Homo sapiens: one gene and its partner. The protein of the gene in region 2 interacts with the protein of the main gene of each other region in a pairwise test. Each region holds a gene or a part of one and is shown on either strand. Other genes may lie near its edges. The genes, in order: DEAF1 and RAD23B.

The links.
Region 1: the proteins of RAD23B (region 2) and DEAF1 interact in a two-hybrid assay, tested with the Homo sapiens proteins (one large-scale study listed by BioGRID and IntAct).

Annotation. Positions count from the first base shown.
Region 1 is NC_000011.10:670,932-674,759, reverse strand, and holds part of DEAF1 (deformed epidermal autoregulatory factor 1 homolog), read left to right. Parts: coding exon 1-224; intron 225-3,828. UniProt on the Homo sapiens protein: Transcription factor that binds to sequence with multiple copies of 5'-TTC[CG]G-3' present in its own promoter and that of the HNRPA2B1 gene. Down-regulates transcription of these genes.
Region 2 is NC_000009.12:107,330,351-107,332,884, reverse strand, and holds the end of RAD23B (UV excision repair protein RAD23 homolog B), read right to left. Parts: 3' UTR 696-2,534; downstream 1-695. UniProt on the Homo sapiens protein: Multiubiquitin chain receptor involved in modulation of proteasomal degradation. Binds to polyubiquitin chains.

The DNA of each region.
Region 1 (3,828 bases), on a different chromosome or scaffold from region 2:
CGGTCCCACCCCCGACTCCCACCAAAGCGGCACCTCCCGCGTTGGTCAATGGGCTGGAGCTGTCAGAGCCGCGGAGCTGGCTGTACCTAGAAGAGATGGTCAACTCCTTGCTCAACACAGCGCAGCAGCTGAAGACGCTGTTTGAGCAAGCCAAGCATGCCAGCACCTACCGAGAAGCTGCCACAAACCAGGCCAAGATCCACGCTGACGCAGAGCGGAAGGAGGTAACCTTGGAACAAATGGGAAGACACGACCTGTGCCGAGTAACCCCAGGCCACCCTGGTGCCTGTGCCCAGCTGCGCAAGCCCCACCTTGGCTCACAAGGCCCCTGCCCCACCTTTCTGGAAAAGGGAGCTGTGGAGAGTCATTTACAAATGAAGCTTTTCCTAAAGAAAAGTGACAGCTATTGTTGTTAAGGTGGTTTTGGTTTTTGTAAATAAGGTTGCTTTGTTTCAGAAAGGGAAACAATTTTGTGCGCATCGGCCGTTGTGAATACTCACCTTTTCTAGGCATTATTCATCCTTTGTCTTCCTGTAGTGAAATGTGCTTATATTTTATGAAGTTTGGAGAACATCATCTATTGAGTCTCTGAGTATCAGCGACTGGCAGGGCGAATGCTGAGCCCCTTCCTGGGAGCCGAGCTCCGTCCATCTGCTGTCACAAAGCCCTCCCAGCTTCTGGCACGTTCTTCAGAAGGCGGCTCCTGTGCATGGTGGGAGGCTCACAGGGCGTAGTGCCCATGTTTTCTGTAGCTTCCTATTACTGCAGCACAAGCAAAAGGTCACTTAGGCCCCTTCGGCCTCTTTTCATATGGAGTCTCTACTTCATATGAACCCTTTACTTAGATTGAAGACTTTGAGGTAATATAAAGGTTCAGGTGGGTGACATGAATAGGGTAGATAGAAATTACTAGAGCCAGAGTAAACTGGAGAGAGGGTGGAGGTTTCTCAGCTACTTCTCATAGCCCAAACCCAGCAGACAGGTACCGTGTGTCACAGGGCACGGGGACGAGAAGGTGAGAGAGGAGGGCGCCTGTCTGCTCAGCACAGATGGGGAGCTCTGAAGGCCACAGGAAAGGACAGGGATGGATTTTGTTGTAGCTGCTTTTTCGGGTACGGTAACGTGGACTTTGGTTTGTAAACAAAAGTCAAATTCATATTTTTCCCACCAAATCTATGTAAGAAACGTTTTCCCCCATTTCTTTTCTACTTTCTATTTTTATTTTTATTTGTGGAACAGGCTGTCACTCTGTCGCCCAGGCTAGAATGCAGTGGCACAATCTCGGCTCACTGCAACCTTTGCCTCCCGGGCTCCAGCGATTCTTGTGCCTCAGCCTCCCAAGTAGCTGGGACTACAGGCACCCACCACCACACCTGGCTAATTTTCTGTATTTTTGGTAGAGACGGGGTTTTACCATGTTGCCCAGGCTGATCTCACACTCCTGAGCTCAGGTGATCCACCCGCCTCAGCCTCTTAAAGTACTGGGATTGCAGATGTGAGCCACCATGCCCAGCTTCTACTTTTTATAGAAGAACTTTTTATTTATGTATTTATTTTATTATCATTATTTTTTTTTCAGCTGCTGCTTTATTTTACTTTATTTTATTTTTTGAGACGGAGTCTCGCTCCATCACCCAGGCTGGAGTGCAGTGGCACGATCTTGGCTAACTGCAACCTCCACTTCCTGGGATCAAGCAATTATCCTGCCTCAGCCTCCCAAGTAGCTGGGACTACAGGCGCCTGCTGCCATGCCTGGCTAATTTTTGTATTTTTAGTACAGACAGGGTTTCACCATGTTGGCCAGGCTGGTCTTAAACTCCTGACCTCAAGTGATCTACCCGCCTGAGCGTCTTAAAGTGCTGGGATTATACGTATTTATTTATTTATCTATTTAAAAAAAATTTTTTTTTTTGAGACGGAGTCTTGCTGTGTCGCTCAGGCTGGAGTGCAATGGCACAATCTCAGCTCACTGCAGCTTCCTCCTCCCGGGTTCAAGTGATTCTCCTGCCTCAGCCTCCGGAATAGCTGGGATTACAGGCATGTGCTACCACACCTGGCTGATTTTTTGTATTTTTAGTAGAGACGGGGTTTCACTATGTTAGCCAGGCTGGTCTTGAACCCCTGACCTCAGGTGATTCACCCACCTCAGTCTCCCAAAGTGCTGGGATTACAGGCATGAGCCACCTTGCCCGGCCTATTTATTTTTTAATTTTTAAATTTTTCTGTCATTCAGTGCACATCAGGTACTTGTTATAGATTCTACTAGACAAGCACATAACGAACAGTGATTATCATCCCAGGCCGTATTCAATGTTAGGGGTTTGTTACGGATTCTACTAGACAAGCACATAATGAACGGTGATTCTCAACCCAGGCCGTATTCAATGTTAGGGGTTTGTTACGGATTCTACTAGACAAGCACATAATGAACGGTGATTCTCAACCCAGGTCGTATTCGATGTTAGGGGTTTGTTACGGATTCTACTAGACAAGCACATAATGAACAGTGATTCTCAACCCAGGTCGTATTCGATGTTAGGGGTTTGTTACGGATTCTACCAGACAAGCACATAACAAACAGTGATTCTCATCCCAGGCCGTATTCTATGTTAGGGGTTTGTGTAGTTTCCCCAGGACCTGTAGTGGTGATTGTCCAGAAGCCTTCCATAGGAGGAATGCATGGTCATTAGGTATGCCACAGCTCCAAACACCAGCAACACCACTCAATGACTATTGAGGTAATGACAGTGACACTGCAGCTCCACATGGCTGGGGAGGTCTCACCATCATGGCAGATGGCAAAGCGGGAGGAAAGGCATGTCTTAATGGTGACAGGCGAGCAGAAGAGCTTTTTAGATTCTTAATTTTTTAAATGACTGATCAATATGTGATTAGTGTTTTTTGTGTTTCTTTTTTTTTTTTTTTTTTTTTTTAAGAGGTAAGGTCTCACTCTGTTGCCTAGGCTCATGGCTCATTGTAGGCTCAAACTCCTGGAAATACGGGTGCATGCCACCACGCTTGCCTAATTTATTTTTTTATTTTTTATTTTTTGTAGAGACTGGGTCTTGCCGTGTTGCCCAAGGTGGTCTCAAACTCCTGGGCTCAAGAGATCCTCCTGCCTCAGCCTCCCAAAGTGCTGAGATTACAGGCGTGAGCCACTGGACCCAGCATTAATTTTCTTTCAAGGAAGAAAAGTGTTTCTACTCCTGAAGACAAAGATAATTTTAAAATACTTTTTCACTGGGCACAGTGGATCACACTTGTAATCTCAGTGCTTTGAGAGGCTGAGGTGGGAGGATCTTTTGAGCCCAGGAGTTTGAGACCAGCTTGGACAACATGGTGAAACCCCGTCTCTACAAAAAAATATAAAAATTAGCTGGGTGTGGTGGTGGGCACCTGTAGTCTCAGCTACTTAGGAGGCTGAGGCAGGAGACTCACTTGAACCCAGGAGGCAGAGGTTGCAGTGAGCTGAGATCGGGCCACTGCACTCCAGTCTGGCGACAGAGCAAGACTCTGTCTCAAAAAACAAAAAGTCCAGGCGCGGTGGCTCACGCCTGTAATCCCAGCACTTTGGGAGGCCGAGGCGGGCGGATCACGAGGTCAGGAGATCGAGACCATCCTGGCTAACATGGTGAAACCCCATCTCTACTAAAAATACAAAAAATTAGCCGGGCGTGGTGGCGGGCGCCTGTAGTCCCAGCTCCTTGGGAGGCTGAGGCAGGAGAATGGCGTGAACCCGGGAGGTGGAGATTGCAGTGAGCCGAGATCGCGCCACTGCACTCCAGCCTGGGTGACAAAGTGAGACTCTGTCTCAAAAAAAAAAAAAAA
Region 2 (2,534 bases):
ATAGTGATTATTTAGGCTTTGCAGGCCACAGTCTGCTGCAGCTATCCAACAGCAAACTTCTGTAGCACAAAAGTAGCTATAGACAATATGTAAACAAATGAGGATGGCTGTGTTTCAATAACACTTTTAAGGACACTGAAATGTAAGTTGAAACTTTTGAGGTGATAAAAAACATATACAATTGAAACCATTTAAAAATGTAAAGATCACTCTTAGTTCATGGACCACATAACAGGTATATGCCAGATTTGGCTCATGAAGCTGTAGTTTGCCAGCCCTTGGCTTAGGGGGAAAAAATGGGGAAAATGGATGGGGGAGGCCAACTGAACTTCATGGCTGGAGAATCCACCAGAACTGACTGGGTCAGGAACACTCATTCCCTCCAATTGCTTACTTTCGGTAGAACATTTTGCAGCAGGCTTTGGCTGGCTGCTTCAGACAAGTATGGAACAATGGAAATTTTATGCATTCCCTAGAAGACCTCACTAACCTTAACATCCCAGCAAGTATCCCATCTCTGTGTTGAGAAAAGAACCAGGAGACCCAATAAAGTCAATCTAGTGCCTGGGCCTCCTATATGATACACTCACCAATTACTGAAGTAAAAAGAAGTATCAGTGACAGAAGCATTGTCAACTTTCAATTCTGATTCTACGTGACAGAATCATTTAAAAAATGAGAAGTGCAATGTTGGATGTATTGAAAATATTTTATAATCAATTCTCTAGAATCCTAGCCATCCAGTACAGGAAAAAATTATATTGGAACACTTCCGTATTTTTAAACAATGAAAAAAAATTTGACTAGAGGATGGCATAAGAAATTTACAAATACAAACTTAGGCTTCCTCACATTTCCCACAGAGCAACTAAACGAGAAAAAGATTTCAAGAAATGACAGTATACCTCGAATGCAAAATTCCAAAGTCAAATAGCTACTTACATTAAGAGATTTACCAAAACAGTTTGTAAATTAAACATTAACAGCAAAAGGCACAAAAAGCCTATTTCTTTTATGGTGTCTCGGCTGATTCTTTAAGAAGCAGATAAACAAGGTACTGTATGGAACGATCAAAACTTGGCCTGAGCTGTCTTCTGATAATTAATCCTAGTATATCCAGATTTGTTGTCCAAGGACACAAGCTCCATGCCACCTTCTGCTGTCACTTTCCAAGAAGAGGCTGTTTTTTTTTTTTGTTTCCAGTTTTCACTATGATCTGAGTAGACAGAGAATGTCATAAAATAAATGAGAGTATTCCATTATCCGATCAGAAATGCCACCTCTTTTCCCAACTCATTGCTCTGACTTGAAAGATGAACGTATATATGAATTCTCATTTTATTCTCCTGAGAAATTATGCATGATCCATTATAAAACATACAGGTAATACAAAGTCCAAAAGCCTGTCATGTTTATGGCAGTGGTGTGATCTCAGCTCACGGCAACCTTCACTTCCCGGGTTCAAGCAATTCTCATGCCTCAGCCTCCCAAGTAGCTGGGACCACAGGCGTGCGCCACCATGCCTGGCTATTTTTTGTATTTTTAGTATAGACGGGGTTTCGCCATGACGGTCAGGCTGGTCTCAATCTCCTGGCCTCAAGTGATCTGCCCACCTCGGCCTCCCAAAGTGCTGGGATTATAGGCATGAGCCACCATACCCAGCCAGTTTCATTTATTTTCATAATAGGTTATGAGTACGTGATGTAAATGCTTAAAAGTCATCATCACCATACTGTGCTAAAGATATTGAGAAATTATGCAGAGAAATCTGTGCAAATTCATCTTCTTAGTATCAGATGGTTAAAAAAAAGGAAACAAAAAACAAAAGCAATCCAAATTATTTCTTTAAATACTCTTATTTATACTCAGGAAAACAGATTTGAAAAACTGAACAAGTAGACATCTGCCCCGTTTATGATTAAATAACAATGCCAATGAAGGAGATTCCACAGAAAAAACTGAGATGAAAAAATCCAAATAAAAGCCAACACTGCTATTAAGATTTTTCTTTTAATATGCCATGAGATATCTTGATTGTATATTTTCCAAAGTACTTTCCAGCCACATCTCCCAACCCATCCAAAAGACTTTGCCAGTCTTTCCAATGCAATAAAAGATGCTGGATTATAGTTTTGTCTACCATTTCTTTTTGAAAGCAATATTATACTAATGACTTTAATGGTAATACACTCTTATCTAATAAAGAAACACATTTACAAATATCAGAAACCCAGTTTTGAAACATTTGCATTAATTTTGAACTGAATCAGCATTTTGTGGGTTTTTTAAAAGGCAGCAGTTTGACTCACGACTTGCTGATAAACACGTTTCTGCTGAGGGAAGGGGAAAAGACAGGGAGAGTGAATGCTGCATTTCTCCATTGGCCCCAAAAGTGCTAATTTCACAAAGGGATACATCAAAAGCAAACATGCAATGGTTGTTTTAAAACTTTTACTGCAATATAACAATGAAGTAAACAGTAATTAGACACCTACCAATTTTTTCCCCAAAACAAAAAAAAAATGTAAACAGGA